2 separate regions of the Homo sapiens genome follow, and region 2 is linked to region 1. Evidence: fine-mapped expression QTL. Tissue or cell type: whole blood. Region 1 holds a variant in brackets; the other region holds the start of a gene. All regions are shown on one strand. Distances are from middle to middle.

Region 1 (8,083 bases):
TCACTGCCCATCTCTAGGCATCAGAGATCTCATGTGACAAACGAGGAGGCTGAATCAGAGAAGCCCCAAAAATCCTTCTGCCTCAGACAGCTCTTGTTCCTCCCTGTGTGCCAAACATTGTCTCCTGCAGTTCTTTAAAATGCTAATATTGTTGCTGCTAATGGTGAGATGCTGATACTCTGATTCATGGAGCCTTTCTCTTCTGAGAATCTGAGGGTTCTCACAGACTGTCCAGTTCCCCTGCTCGTAGGGGTAAGTTCTAAATGGAGAGAAGAGCTTACTTCTATCCAGTACCTTCTGTGTACTAGACCTGTACTAAAGACGTTACAGCCATTATCACTAATCCTCACAAGGTAGGTAGAAAAATTCCTAACAGGCAAGGGAGAAATTAGCTCATTTTTTACAGATGAAGAAACTGAGGTTCAGAGAGGTTATAAAAGACATGCCTAAGGCCACAGCTGCTGTGTAAAGAGCCAAGATTGGGCTGCAGATATGTCTGATCCCAGAGCCCCAATTCTCCCCCCATACCACTGTTTACCTTGAACCAGGCGAGGGATTGCTTACGATCACGGAAGAAGATGACTTCCACCTTTTCAGGGGCCCTGCTCCATCAAGAGAGCGTGAGGAGCCAAGGACTGAACCGGGGATGAGGCCTCTCTTCTCTCATGCAGGGGCTATATTAGCTAGCACCTGGCCATGAGTCCAGCTCACCTTTCTACCTAGTCTCCTGCAGCCCTAGGAAAACAAAAAGGTGGTTTGCTTCCCATGTCATAGGAGGCCACAGGGAGGGGACTCCTCCAGACCGAACAGCACATCAGGTACCAAGCCAGGAAGATCCAGATCCAGATCTCCTACCAGCTGCTCACTGCCTTCCCCACCTGGCCCAGCCTCCTTGCCCCTGCCCGTTCCGTTGTATCTTCCTAGCCCTTCAGCTGCTCCCTGCCCCTGAACCTCTGCTGAGGAAGAAGAGACCAGTCCTTCAGAGGTCACATACTCAGTTACTCACGTGTACACTGAGGCCTCTACTCCATTCCAGCCTCTTGATGGGATTCAAGTGCACAGCTATGACCAGACCCGAATGTGCCCTCTTGGAGCTCTCTGCCTGGTAGACAGGTGGAAAGGAGACATGGTAGTAGCTGGCATTTTGCATTTTGTGTGCCATTCGCTGTCTTCAGAGGCTTATGTGTATCAATTTAACCCTTTCAACAACCCTCCAAAGCTAGCTATTATTACGGCCTCCATTGAACAGATGTGGAAACTGAAGCAAAGTAAGATTAAGTCATTTACCTGTGGTCATGCAGCTGGGGAGAGAGAATCAAGGATTCAAACCCAGGCAGCCCAGTTCTAGATCCTGCAGCTTGAATGACTGCCACGCAGCTAGGGCCAAAAGAGCGAGGTCCGTCTCAGTGAAGCACGCAAGGGACGGGACCATGCCGCTGAGGGAGGGTGAGCATCGCGGCCTGTTTGATCTCTGGTCTCCCTGGAGAGGCACCTCTGATGGCATTCTTGGCCCAAAAAACAGAAGGCAACTGCTGACTGAAGTACAATCAGCCATACATGGAAGCCCTGTCTCCCCCTCCTCCGTCACTTCACTCCACTGACTGCCTTTTAGGGGTTGATAGGAATTCCTTCCTGCAGCTGTTGTCGCCCCTTCCCCCAGCCCCAGCCTACTATAGTTTCTGATGCTCTTGGTTCCATTGACCAAAGCTGCCATCCAGGTTTACTCGATTTAGGCTCTTTGAGGATGGGCCCTTGTCATGTTCACTTGAACCATTCCCAGAGCCCACAAAGTCAGGGGAAATGTTGTATTGACTAATTTAATTCAACAGTAGTTTTAATTCAACAGTAGTTAGCAAACCTTCAAAGGGTTAGTAAGTGCTAGGTGAACAGAGTGGCGGGGCTGGCAGTAGAAACCTAATGTATAAAAGTACAGGGCATGAAACAGGCTGGCATGCTCAGGGAACTGCAGCTGGTCAGTACTGCTCGATTGCAGAGGGAAAACAAGGACAGAGTGCTAGAGACAAGGTAGGTAAGGTAAACAGGGCCCAGTTAAAATGCCAGGCACAGAAGTTTGCATTTCTCTGGTAGAGAGTAAGGAGCCTTTTAAAGACTTTAAGCAAGAAAGAAACAGTCAAATTTTCACTTTACAAAGATGCCGTGGGCAGCTGTGTAAAGAATGGATGAGAAGGGAGAGGGTCATTAACAAGGAGACTGCTGGGGAGCCCAAGCTACAGCTGGGGAGGCCATGGGCTGGAGAAACTACTAGAAGGTTGACTGAGGAGAGGAGGAGGAGCCAAGGGTGGCCAGTTGGCTGCTGCCAGTTGGCCATCAGCTAAGGCGGCGAACACAGTGGGAAGCCGCAGATTGAAGAGGAAGGTGAGGCACTGAGGTGTGGAAATGTTGAAGGTGAGATACCTGAGGGACATCCAGATGGAGATGGCCAAGGGGCCGTTCATCAGTTTTATGGGTCAGGAGTTTAGGAAAGGTCTGACTGAAAATAGCAGTTCAGGAATCCTTCAGCCCAGAGAGGTTAACGGAAGCCACAGGAATGGATGAGGTCTGTAACCCAGGGAGTGTATAATGTGCAGAGAAAAGAGGGCTATACACAGAGCCTTGGGACCTATCAGGGAAGTCAAGACAGACTCGCCAGAGAAGTAGGAGGCAAAACCAGGCCAGGCATGATGGGTCACACCTGTAATCCCAGCACTTTGGAAGGCCGAGGTGGGCAGATCACTTGAATTCAGGGGTTCGAGACCAGCTTGGGCAACATGGCAAAACCTTGTCTCTACAAAAAATACAAAAATCAGCTGGGCATAGTGACATGTGCCTGTAGTCCTCACTACTCAGGAGGCTGAGGTGGGAGGATGGCTTGAGCCTCAGAGGCTGAGGTTGCAGTGAGCAGAGATTGCACCACTGCGCTCCAACCTGGGCAACAGAGCCAGACCCTGTCTCAAAAACAAAAAAGAGCCAACCAAAAGAATGTGGCTCATTCATTTATTCATGAGGCGCTGTGTGGGGTAGAGGGGACACTGACAAAACAGATGCAGCCCTGGCCTTGGCGTGACCAATGAGTGCGGAGACAGGCAGCTAAAAAGTAGTTCAGTCCACTGTGGTCGGTGCTGCGCTAGGGACAAGCAGCAAGTGCCAGGAGTTGTAGGGGCACCTAATCCAGGCTGGAGGTGTGAGGGAAGCAGCCTCACCCCTACCCAGTCTAGTTCTCCCAAGCCTGGGCCCAGAAAAGTAAGAACCCTATTGCTCTCATCAAAGCACCAAGCAGGTCTACTGCTGGCCACTCACAGGTGACCCCAGGGCAGAAGTCCCAGAAAGAGACTAGTCCCCAGAGAGCCCAGCCCCCACTCCTCCCACCAAGGAGTCATACGTGAGACAGTGGGAAAGCAGCCCCATAACCCTG[G/A]GGTGAGCATTCAAGCCCCACCCAAGATGTGCACGCTCTGGTTGTTAGAGGGAGGTGAGGCACGGACAGCTTCCTGTTTGAGACACATCTTTATTGCTAAGGAAACTGAGGAGGAGACATGAGCACTGAAAGTCACCCTTTGGGTCAGTCATGCACTGCACCTGCTCCCCTCACCCACCTGGGACCCATCCTCAGGCCCAGTTATGAGCAGAGCTTTGATCTCTGAGAATGAAATTGCTGCTAGGTTATTGCTCTGGCCAGTATAGCAGTGTGTGAACCCAGTCCTTAGGGATGAGCTCTGCAAAGTGAGTATGGAACACACACACAGTCATATGCACATGCTTGGACATGTCACACACACACACACACACACACACACACACACACACACACACACACACACACACACACACACACACCTGGTCCCCAAAACTAGAACTGCCCTCAGTGGATCTGTTAGATTAGAACCCATAAGCAGTGGGGTAAGAGTGAAAAGCTGCTGGTAAAAGCTCAAGGACATCTGCTTGCACCCTTGCTTCCCTTTTCCTGCCCCAAGGCAGGGACAGCAGAGTGACCAGCTCCAGGATGTGGATTACCAGGCCCCTTGTGTATAGACCCTTTGGGAATTAACAGTTTCTCAAAGGCCTCTGCCAAGGTCCAGTGGAAAGCAAGGCTGGAAACTACACCCAGCATGCAGTAAGCTAGCTCGGTTGATGCACAGTCCTTTCTCCTTTGCTCCTAAGGAGTAGGACTGGGTTTACCATTACACTGGCTTTAGAAGCAAGGGCTAACCCTGAAGCTCGGGCAGGGCCCAGCATCCCTGGCTCAGGCAGGAGCCAACAGGCTGAGGTCAGTGATGTATATCCCCAGAGCCACGGTTTCTGGCTTGGCGGGAGCTGTGCTTTCTCTGCTTCCCAAAAGAAATCTCAGGTAGATCTCCTCCCTAGCACCTGTCCCAGTTGCATCTCTCCAGTGAGGATCAAACTGAATTTGGCAGAATTCTGAGAAAATTCTGTCGAAGGAAAGAAAATAGCACGAGGCCTCATTCATCCAGCACCATTGGTCTGACCTCTGTAGCCTGGTGCAGAGGAAGGGCATGGGCTCTGAGGTCAGATAGTTCAAGTCTCGCCTCTACTGTATCCTAGCTGTGAAACCTCGAACAAGTTATGATCCTCTCTGAGCCTCAGTTTCTTTGTAGGGGTCCTAACTGCACCTACCTCCAAGGGTGGATGTGAAGATTCCAGCCTCCAGCAAGCAGGTGTCAAACACCTACTCTGTACCGGACGCTGTTCTGGGACACAGTGATGAACAAGACCCAGCCTCTGTTGTCAAGGAGCCACTTTCCTAGTAGAAGGAGTGGGGTTGTACACAAAAAGCACTAAGCAGAGCATCTGTGATGAAAGTAGAAGTCCCTGTCCGTGTTCGGCATTGTCACTCTATTGCTTGCTCTCAAGGAGTCCCTGATCATTGCTTTTGTTATAAATGACATAAAGTGCTGTTGTACGGTCATGCCCTTGAGGTTCGCTGAGTGAGCGGGGCTCTGTACCCTTCAACTGATTGGTCCCAGAACACTGTACTTTTATCATTCTTCTGTCTCTGCCCTATACTGTTTGCTCCTTTTCTCCTTCTTTGGTGCATCTTTCTCCAGTATAGATGCCTCCTTTGTCCCTTCTAGAAAGAGCTGAAGATTCCAAGGAAACTTCCCAAGGTGGTTAAAGAAGCAATCTCATTTTTTATCCCTGTTAGGCCAGGCGGCAGCTCCAAAGATAAAAGAGGTTGTCCTGTTTCATTATATATCACCTACTACAGTAATAATAGCTCTGAACATTTGAACAGCATGGTTTACTAAGAATTTTCACCAGATAACCACATCTAGTCCTGACAGTAGCCATGTAAAGTACCCTCCTCTGAATTCCTGCAGCATGCTGGGCTTCCCTTTATTATCATACGTAACATATTGGATGGTCAGTGCTTGTTTCCTGTATCTCACTGCTTCTCTATACTGGGAGCATGTTGTAGGCTCAGTGGGACCCCAGTACCCCACCACAGATCCTGGCCCACAGCGGGCCTCCAAAAAATGTGTTGGTTGCACAAATGAATGGCTAACTGTGACTGACTTCTGCATGCCAGGGATAGTTGGGTGCCCCAAGAGATGCCAGAGAGCAACTGCAGCCTCACCTGGAGGCACTCAGTAGGGAGAGCAGTTGCAGCGCAGGGCGGTGAGCACAGCAGCCAAGGTGCAAGTCTAGTGCTCGGAGAACCCAGAGGAGGAAGCAGCTGGCTGCTGGGGCTGGAGGGAGACACAGGGCTCTGGGGAGGCCTCCTGAAGGAGGTGAGAACTGAGAGTGCTAAGGCCTGCCCAGGCACATAGCTCCCTGACTGTACACTCCCTTCCTTCCCTTCCCAGGGCCGGCTGACAGATGGAAAAGGGAAGACCATTGATTGCAAGGACGCCATCTTCATCATGACCTCCAATGTGGCCAGCGACGAGATCGCACAGCACGCGCTGCAGCTGAGGCAGGAAGCTTTGGAGATGAGCCGTAACCGTATTGCCGAAAACCTGGGTATGGCGGCTGACCTGAGCAGTCTGGTCCAGTGACCAAGCCACCAGCCTATCTCCTGGGGAAGGATGGGATTGGGGCCCTGGGCCCAGGTGAAGGTTCTAGTGGGCAGCTCTGTCCCTAGCTGACACTGAGCAGATATCAGACACCATACCAAGTAGTGGGGGTTGAGACAAAAGAGACAGAGACCCCACTTCAAGAAAGCCTCAAGTCTGTTGGGTGATAAGAGGGCTCCAGGCAGGAATGGACAGAGCTACACCAGGGTGGGGGGCCAGAAGCTGCTCAGTGTCTTAGGGGACTGAGGAGATGCACATGCAAGAGACACAGATGCTTTGGTGCAAGAAGGGGACAGCAGATCGAAAACTCTATGGCAGTGGACACAGCCTTGTTCACCCAGGGCAGCTTCCTGCGTAGGTGGGCCATGGAGAGTGCTGAAAAAAAGGAGCACATCCGGCAGGAAGCTGTGTCTGTCACCTTTTCCATTCAAGATCGAGCCCTGCAGCCCCCTTCCTCCAAGTCAGGACTCAAGTCTTAATCCTGACGTTTCCTCTCCTCTCCCTCCCTCACACAACTCCCACCCTGAGGAATCGCAGACTTCATACACTTGAGAGCTGGAAAGGCCTCCGAAAGTGCCTGGTCAGAGGAGGAGACCAGGCTGAAGCCCAGAGAGCCTTAGACCTTGACCAGGACCACACAGATGGACAGGACCAGGGCTCTTTCCATGGGCAGGCCAAGGGGCAGGCACAGCCCCCAAAGTTCCCTGAATGTGGGGAATAAGCAGTTTATGATTCTTCTCCACAGGGGATGTCCAGATAAGTGACAAGATCACCATCTCAAAGAACTTCAAGGAGAATGTGATTCGCCCTATCCTGAAAGTAAGAGGTCTTTCTTGGCACTTCCTGCTGGAGCCTAAGGTTGGGGGAGGGTGATCTTAGCCATCCTAAAGATCTGGAAGCCCCATAATTTCCCCAGTCTTCCCCTGGTGTCTGGTAATTTCCCTAACCCGCTCTGGGTCACTGAGCTCATCCCACCCCTAACCTGGCCCTTCAGGCTCACTTCCGGAGGGATGAGTTTCTGGGACGGATCAATGAGATCGTCTACTTCCTCCCCTTCTGCCACTCGGAGCTCATCCAACTCGTCAACAAGGAACTAAACTTCTGGGCCAAGAGAGTAAGAGGGAACTGCCCATGGGTGGGGGCGGGATAGCCAGCCACTGGAAATCTGGAACACTGGACTGGGGGCACCCCCACACACATAAAAGGTGGAGCACAGTGGTGTGGGGCCAGTGGCCCTGGCCTCAGGCCAGAGTGGCAAGAGATGGAAAGCAGTGGGCCACATGCAGGCATGCTTCTATCTGACCCATCTCAGGCCAAGCAAAGGCACAACATCACGCTGCTCTGGGACCGCGAGGTGGCAGATGTGCTGGTCGACGGCTACAATGTGCACTATGGCGCCCGCTCCATCAAACATGAGGTGAGCACAGGAGCCTGAGAAATGAGGCGCCTCCACACCTCCCTCCCCAGGGCCCCCCAGACCCAGTCCCTGAGCTCTCAGCCTGCCTCCCTATAGCTTGGTTGCTGGATATTCACACCCAGAGTGGATGCCCATTCAGAACCATAAACACATGATCACCAAGTAAAACCCCTGCTGGAGGGTAGCCCAGTATGAACCCCACTAGGACCAGGGAACTGGGCTGGGAGCCTCAGAAACTTGAGCGCAGTCCTGCGAGCTAGCTGTTATTAGCCCCAATTGGCAAATGAGAAAGCTGAGGCTCAGGCTCAAAGGAGGTCTCTGAGTTGCCCTAGCAGTAAGTGATGGAGGCCGACCTCCAAGCTGGGTCCAGGCCGAGGGAGTGACCACTTCACCTCCCCACCGACAGGTAGAACGCCGTGTGGTGAACCAGCTGGCAGCAGCCTATGAGCAGGACCTGCTGCCAGGGGGCTGTACTTTGCGCATCACGGTGGAGGACTCAGACAAGCAGCTACTCAAAAGCCCAGAACTGCCCTCACCCCAGGCTGAGAAGCGCCTCCCCAAGCTGCGTCTGGAGATCATCGACAAGGACAGCAAGACTCGCAGACTGGACATCCGGGCACCACTGCACCCTGAGAAG
Region 2 (8,084 bases), 140 kb before region 1:
CCCTCCCAGAGGCTAGGTAATATATGTAATACACGAACCCATACATACTTACATATTTATATTTCTGTATTGATCTGTCTGTATCTATTTTTAAAAACCATGAGTTTTACAGCTGGGCATGGTGGCTCTAACCTGTAATCCTAGCACTTTGGGAGGCTGAGACAGGCAGATCATTTGAGGTCAGGAGTTTGTGACCAGCCTGGCCAACGTGGCAAAACCATATGGTCAATAACCAATTGAGACCAATCAGGCTGGTTCGAGACCAGTCTGGCCAACATGGCGAAACCCTGTCTCTACTAAAAATACAAAAGTTAGCTGGGCGGTGGTACATTGCTGTAATCCCAGCTACTCAGGAGGCTGAGGCAGGAGAATCACTTGAACCTGGGAGACGGAGGCTGCAGTGACCAAGATCGCGCCACTGCATTCCAGCCTGGATGACAGAGCAAGACTCCGTCTCAAAAATAAATAAAGTAAAAATAAAATTAAAGCCATGAGTTTATGCTGATACATCTGATTCCAATTCAATACCACAAGGTTCATTTTAGCTTTCTTTTTTTCCCTATTTATAACTTCTTTCTCCAACAGTGAAAAGCCCAGCTACTATCTATTTACTTATTTGTTTAAAAATGTGTGTGTGTGTTGTTGTTTTGTTTTCTTTTTCTGGAAAAGTTTTTCTCAGAAACCTATAGAATGTGTAGCACCAAATGGCCTCCAACTCCATGCCAGAGGCAGCTGACCACAGCAACTGCATTGATTCTTCACTTTCTGTCTCCTCCTAAACCCCATTCAGATATCCCCCAGTCACCTTCCTACAAACTAAAACTGGAGTTCTCTCTCTCCCAACCCAACAGTTAGAAGCTTAGGGCCAAGGTGGGGTCATTGGAACCTGATATAAATTTTTGCTTTCTGAGCAGACCAAAAGGAAGCCATCCTGCGTTGAAAATCTGTTAAAATGTGACCTAAGAGTTTTTTGTGTGTTTGTTTGTTTTTTGAGACGGAGTCGCCCCGTCGCCCAGGCTGGAGTGCAATGGCGCGATCTTGGCTCACTGCAACCTCCGCCTCCTGGGTTCAAGTAATTCTCCTGCCTCAGCCTCCTGAGTAGCTGGGATTACAGGCGTGTGCCACCACGCCCAGCTAATTTTTTGGATCTTTAGTAGAGACGGGGTTTCACCATGTTAGCCAGGCTGGTCTCGAACTCCTGACCTCAAATGATCCTTCCAACTCGGCCTCCCAAAGTGCTGGGATTATAGGCATTAGCCACTGTGCCTGGCCCTGGATTGGTTATTGACCATACAGAATTCACTCTGAGTCCCAGCTGATTCTAATGGGTGGGGTTTTTTTGTTTGTTTTAATTTTAGTTTATTTTTCTTTTTTTTGGAGACAGGGTCTCACTCTGTTGCCTAGACTGAAGTGCAGTAGTGTGGGGATCCTCCTGCCACAGCCTCCTGAGTAGCTAGAACTACAGGTGTACACCCCCATGCCTGGCTAATTTTTTATTTTTTGCAGAGACTGTGATCTCACCATGTTGCCCAGGCTGGTCTCAAACTCCTGCCCCAAGTGTTGGGATTACAGGCACGTGAGCAAGCACACACGACCCTAATGGGTGTTTCCATACTTCCTCACTACATCCCCCACTCAGAGATTGATAATTTAAGCTTTTCAGTATCCCTACCAAATACTGATAGTAATTAAACCCTTCCTTGAACCCCTCGCAGATGGTATCTGTGAAAATAAAATAAGAAAATCAATGGGGAAGTGCTTTGAAAATTATGCATTGCTAAGTAAACTGAAGGGCCCTGGGATGTGTCTGCAGTGAGAGGGTTTGAACTCTGCATCTGGTAATGGGAGCTTTCGGAGACTGCTCTTCCTGCTGTGACCACCCTAAGTTGGGAGACAGAAATGTTTCAAGAATACAGGGAAGGTGAAGTTGCTATAGTGAATGGGGTGGTTAACAAAATAATATGTGCTGAAAATCTCTCAAAACAGAAAGGTCAAAATGCTTTCATTATTGAGTGCTTTAAAAATGATTTAAAAATAGTTATTCAAGGCTGGGCACGGTGGCTCACGCCTGTAATCCCAGCACTCTGGGAGGCCAAGGCAGGTGGATCATCTGAGGTTGGGAGTTTGAGACCAGCCTGACCAACATGTAAAACCCCGTCTCTACTAAAAATACAAAAAAAATTAGCCAGGTGTGGTGACACATGCCTGTAATCCTAGCTACTCGGGAGGCTGAGGCAAGAAAAGCGCTTGAACCTGGGAGGCGGAGGTTGCGGTGAGTCAAGATCGCGCCATTGCACTCCAGCCTGGGCAACAAGAGCAAAACTCCATCTCAAAAAAAAAAAAAAGTTATTAAAGCCAGGCGCAGTGGCTCACGCCTGTAATCCCAGCACTTTAGGAGGCTGAGGCAGGAGGACTGCTTGAGCCCAGGAGTTCAGACCAGCTTGGGCATCATAGCGAGACCTAGTCTCTACCCAAATAATAATAATAATAATAATAACAAAAAATTAGCTAGGTGTAGTGGTGCCAGCTGTGGTCCCAGCTACTCAGGAGGCTGAGGTGGTGGGATGATCCCTTGAGCCCAGGAGGTTTCAGGTTGCAGTAACAACTGTACTCCAGCCTGTGTAACAGAGCGTGACCCTGTCTCAAAAAAAACCAAAAAAGTCGCTCATTCATTCCTGTCTTACTAACGGATGTGGAAATGAGAAGTTCCATCTTTGCCTGGAGGAAGTGTAGAATACACAGAGCAGAGAATATACAATGATAGCTACCATTTCTTGAAGACCTACTGTGAGCCAGGGACAGTGTTAGGGGCTTTCTACATATTATCTTATTTAATACAAGCAATCATCTTGAAGGCAGGAATTGATATCTTCAACAATGAGTAATTAACTACCAGAGAGGTAAAGGGAGTTTGTCCAAGGTCACCCATATAAATGCAAGAGTCAAAATTAAAATCCACGTCTGCCTGAATGCCAAAGCTCAAGTACTCTCCAACACTAATAAGGTGAGAGTAATCCATTCACTGAAAAAAATATTTGAGTGCCTCAGGCCGGGCGCGGTGGCTCACACCTGTAATCCCAGCACTTTAGGAGGCCGAGGCAGGTGGATCACGAGGTCAGGAGATCGAGACCATCCTGACTAATACAGTGAAACCCCGTCTCTACTAAAAATACAAAAAAATTAGCCGAGCATGGTGGCGGGAGCCTGTAGTCCCAGCTACTCGGGAGGCTGAGGCAGAAGAATGGCGTGAACACAGGAGGCTGAGCTTGCAGTGAGCTGAGATCGTGCCACTGCACTGCAGCCTGGGCGACAGAGCAAGACTCTGCTTCAATAAATAAATAAATACATAAAAATAAAAAAACTGAGTGCCTCTTTTGTTCCAGACATTGTTCTGAGTGCTAGTGATATAAAAGTGAAAAAACAAAGTCCTTGTCTCATGGGGCTCATGCTGTAGTGGAGAAAGACAATAAAAATGTAGTATGTCAGATGGTGATAAATGCTGTGAAGGAAAATTAGGATGGGGTGCGTAGGATTACTATTTTAACCAGAATGGTCAGGGAAGACTCTGATCATGTGAAGTCTGAGCAGACGTACAAGACTTGGAAGAAACAGAACTGGCACAAAGAAGAACTTCCTCCTTTGCCTACCTATGGGTTCAGTTTGGAAAAGAGGGGGCGGGATGGGAGTGCAGGTGTTAATGGAAACTATATGCTCAAAATCAGAAGACCTGAGCATTACTTTACTCCAGGTGATTTACTGGCAAATCTTTTCACCTTTGAGCCTCAATTCCCTTCACTGTAGACGGGAATAACAGTTCTTGCCCAGCTTCTCACACACAGCTGCCATGAGGATCAGATGAGATGACCCACTTGAAAGCCCTTTAAAAATAACACAATCAGGGCCAGGCGCAGTGGCTCACGCCAGTAATCCCAGTACTTAGGGAGGCTGAGGCAGGTGGGTCGCTTGAGGTCAGGAGTTGGAGACCAGCCTGGCCAACATGGTGAAACCCCGTCTCTACTACTAAAAATACAAAAATTAGCCAAGCGTGGTGGTGCGTGCCTGTAATCCCAGCTACTCGGTAGGCTGAGGTGGGAGAATCGCTTGGACCAGGGAGACGGAGGTTGCAGTGAGCCGAGATGGCGCCACTGCACTCCAGTTTGGGCGGCAGAGTGAGATTCTGTCTCAAAAAAAAAAAAAAAAAAAAGACCGGAAGTCAACTCTTCAAATAAAATGTATTCCTATCTCAGGTGCAGTAGTTACCCTAAACATCTTTTTGAAAGGCCGCCCAGGCTGAAAAAAGAGATAGGCTAAACTAAATAAGCATAAGTTTCATAATATGCCTCTGCTGAAGATTCTTGGGTAATTTACACCAGTCAAAAATTGTGGGCCGGGCGCGGTGGCTCACGCTTGTAACCCCAGCATTTTGGGAGGCCGAGGCGGGCGGATCGCCTGAGGTCAGGAGTTAGAGACCAGCCTGGCCAACGTGGTGAAACCCCGTTTCCACTAAAAATACAAAAATTAGCTGGGCATGGTGGCGGGCGCCTGTAATCCCAGCTACTCGGGAGACTGAGGTAGGAGAATTGCTTGAACACAGGAGACGAAGGTTGCAGTGAGCCGAGATCGCGCCACGGCACTCCGGCCTGTGAGACAGAGCGAGACTCCGTCTCAAAAAAAAAAAAAAAAAAAAAGTGTGTCGTGTGCTTCAACTAAACTAGGAAAGAAGTCTTGGGATTCTAATCTTTAACTCTAATCGCCACGCCCCTTCACCCGAACTCTATTTCCCAATATGCCCCGGGCTTCTATAATCCCGCAGTCATTGTGACGCAATCCCACAGCCTTCTGGGAAACGTAGTTTATTTATTCTCCAGCTGGGGAAAGGCTTAGGGCTGTGGACTACCTCTCCCGTGAGGTAGTGCGCAACTCCACCCTGTTCGCGGCGTCTTCGAACGCGCCGCGGCAGCCATGTTGGACGTGGTCAGCACAGGGGCCGGCACCACGGGGTTATCGAAGCAGCTGTCAAGATGCTGGGGTCCCTGGTGTTGAGGAGAAAAGCACTGGCGCCACGGCTACTCCTCCGGCTGCTCAGGTCCCCAACGCTCCGGGGCCATGGAGGTGCTTCCGGCCGGAATGTGACTACTGGGAGTCTCGGGGAGCCGCAGTGGCTGAGGGTAGCCACCGGGGGGCGCCCTGGAACATCGCCGGCCTTGTTCTCCGGACGTGGGGCAGCCACCGGGGGGCGCCAGGGAGGACGCTTCGATACCAAATGCCTCGCGGCTGCCACTTGGGGACGCCTTCCTGGTCCCGAAGAAACACTCCCAGGACAGGACAGCTGGAACGGGGTCCCCAGCAGGGCCGGACTGGGCATGTGCGCCCTGGCCGCAGCGCTGGTGGTTCATTGCTACAGCAAGAGTCCGTCCAACAAGGGTGATTATGAGATCTGGGTTTGAGGAAGGGAGAGGCGGGAAGATTGTCCTAACTTCGTATCTTAGGAGGGTGGGAGGTACTTATAGGTTTAGATCCTTAGAGCCTAAGTCTTGGAGGGACTCAGACATCATCTGGTTACAGGGGCAGGGTGTTGCCCTAGAGACCTCATCACCTCGGAGTTGTATAATCTCGTACCATAGATCCGCTTCCCCTCTCTGGGCATCATTTTATCCATCTGTACAATGGGGATATTGGACTAAACATCTAATATTATAGCATGGTCCCCTTATGTTTCTCATATTCTGCCTGGTCCAATTCCTCTTTCCTGAGATCTCCAGGAAACGGAAATTATGGGGTGTTTTAAGGGCAACCGCCAGATGGTTTAGAGAAGTTGCCAAACCGCTCCCCCCTACCCCCCGCCACCAAAGGTGCCAGAGTCAGGAACAACCTGACTCGGTTCTAATGCCAGCTTGACCTCAATTTATTTATTTATTTATTTATTTATTTATTTATTTATTTATTTATTTATTTCTGAGATGGAGTCTTGCTCTGTCGCCAAGCTGGAGTGCAGTGGCGCAATCTCGGCCCACTGCAACCTCCGCCTCCCGGGTTCAAGCTATTCTCCTGCCTTAGCCTCCCAAGTAGCTGGGACTACAGGTGCGGGCCACCACACCCAGCTAATTTTTGTATTTTTAGTTGTTGGTCAGGATGGTCTCGATCTCTTGACCTCCTGATCCACCCGCCTTGGCCTCCCAAAGTACTGGGATTACAGGCGTGAGCCACCGCGTCTGACCAATTTCTTTATTTATATAGTGAAGGATAGTTTCCCAACATTTTTACAGTACTGTTATTTTGACTCTTTTTGGAGTTCAGCGGCCTGAGTCTGTCAGTCTCAGGATTTTGCTGTGTCTGGTCTCACATGCTGTGAGGTGATCTTGCCATGTGGGATAGTTGGCAGGAGAAGGAAGGTGGATTCCTGGAGGCCCAAGGGCAACTGCTGGGGGACTGGCTGATCCCGATTAGCATCTCATTTGGATCCGGGGAGCTAAGCAGCAGCTGAGAGAGTGGACAGAGAGCCAGACTGATGACCTATGTGAGTCCAGCCATTCAGGTTCTTAGTTGTTCCTCAAGAAGAAAGACTGAGGCATGGTGTCCATAGATTCCATGCACCCCAAGCTCTGAGAATTTGGAGCAAGAGTTGGGGAGTAGGGAGTGCCTTGACTTTGATTCGTTTGATGTGGCCAATTGTAAAGGAAGGACTTTGGTCTGGGAGAGACAACACTGGGGATCTTGTTTTGGTTCTGTGTCTAACTCTCATTGTGAATTTGGACTTTTGCTTCTCCTCACGGGTCCTCTGTTTCCTCATCTACAAAATGAGGGTTTTGAAATAGACACTAAGGGCATCGAGCTTAGGCATGTTGTAATCCTATAACTTCCAGCATTTTTGGGGGTACCCACTGTGTGTCTAGTTTTAGGCTAGGTGTGTGGGAAGTCCTAACTTAACACAAAATCAGTCAAGGGGACAGTGCAGGCAGTTGGAATGTAGGGCTGGTGAGTGGTGCTATGTGTCGTTGGGGGATCAGAGGGCCAGTAGGGTCAGGAAAGCCTTTCTGGAGTATTGGAGACCCCAGAGGATGGGAAATTTGAACTTGAGTTCTGAAGGATGAAGTAGAAACGGAAAGGGGAGTGATCTTTTGAGCCCCATGAGAGCAGGAAATGTATCTTCTCTTTTGTTTTTTCAGGTTATACTAGCAACTTTCCCGAATACCTAGACATCATTTGCCCACCACAGTGTCTGGAACTTAGTAGGTGCTCAGTAAATGTGTGAGAGTTGGATTATATTCCATGCAAAGGCTTCAGGGAATGGAAATAACAGTTTCGGGGCACCATGGTGTGTGCAGGGGCCAGCAGAGCAGCCAGCTTGGTTGGAGGATAAGGTCTTTGGAATTAGATGAGAGCAGATGGAGTGGGGCCTGGATGCCAGTCAGGGGTGGGGTAGGTGAGGGTGTTGGAATTTCTTCTGTAGGCAGTGGAGAGTTATGGAAGGTTCATGAGCAGGGAATGTTCTGAGTCCAGTGTATTTGGTGAGGTCTTGCCTAAGAAGTTCCTGGGGGTTCCCAACTGGACTTTATGGCCTATGAACTCCAGCAAGAATACCAGGGTCTATTTACCAAAATAGATAATGGTCAAAGCCGTGACCAGTTCCTGCTGGAACTGACTTGCCAGCTACCCTGTCCCCTGACTTAGAGTTTTGACCCTCAGTGCAGTGTGGTAGAAACTGAACCCTTTTAGAAGCCAGGAGGCCCTGGTTCTTAGCTCATTCCTCACTCTGTAACCTTGTAGAAGCCACATTTTTTTCTGCAGAGTGAAGGGAGAGTGGATATAGCCATCTCTAAGGAAGGCTTGATCCCCTCCCAGCTGGTGGCTGTCTGAGCCATGCTTGGGTATGTGCTTTAGGTACATCCGGTAAGGTAAGTAGAAAGGACCTGTCCCTGGAATCTAGGCCAGGAGGCATCAATGTCTGAACCACAGGACTGGCTTTCATATGCATGATAAGGTGTATTGTACAGATAAGGAAACTAAGGCTCAGGAGGTTAGATAGGTGGGCTAGGTTATACAGCAAATAAGCGACAGAGCTGGGCTAGACCCCAGGTCTGACT

What was found. PIP is the estimated chance that this variant, and not a neighbour inherited with it, causes the effect.
Region 2: it holds the start of CLPB, and the variant in region 1 is fine-mapped to the expression of CLPB in whole blood (TOPMed, PIP 0.97).

The regions. Positions count from the first base shown.
Region 1 is chr11:72,293,385-72,301,467 of GRCh38, reverse strand. It overlaps CLPB (ClpB family mitochondrial disaggregase), which reads left to right. Exons shown (of 16, transcript NM_001258392.3): 12 at 5,820-5,976; 13 at 6,775-6,848; 14 at 7,024-7,143; 15 at 7,342-7,446; 16 at 7,853-8,083. LOC124902708 (a long non-coding RNA gene) reads right to left here and starts at 1,505. Exons shown (of 3, transcript XR_007062766.1): 1 at 1,288-1,505; 2 at 1,007-1,102; 3 at 1-735. RefSeq lists an enhancer at 1-270. The variant G/A (reference allele first, on the strand shown) is at 3,413.
Region 2 is chr11:72,431,412-72,439,495 of GRCh38, reverse strand. CLPB (ClpB family mitochondrial disaggregase) reads left to right here and starts at 4,965. Exons shown (of 16, transcript NM_001258392.3): 1 at 4,965-5,424. The coding sequence starts at 5,022. RefSeq lists a silencer at 2,553-2,602 and enhancers at 4,014-4,820, 4,884-5,343.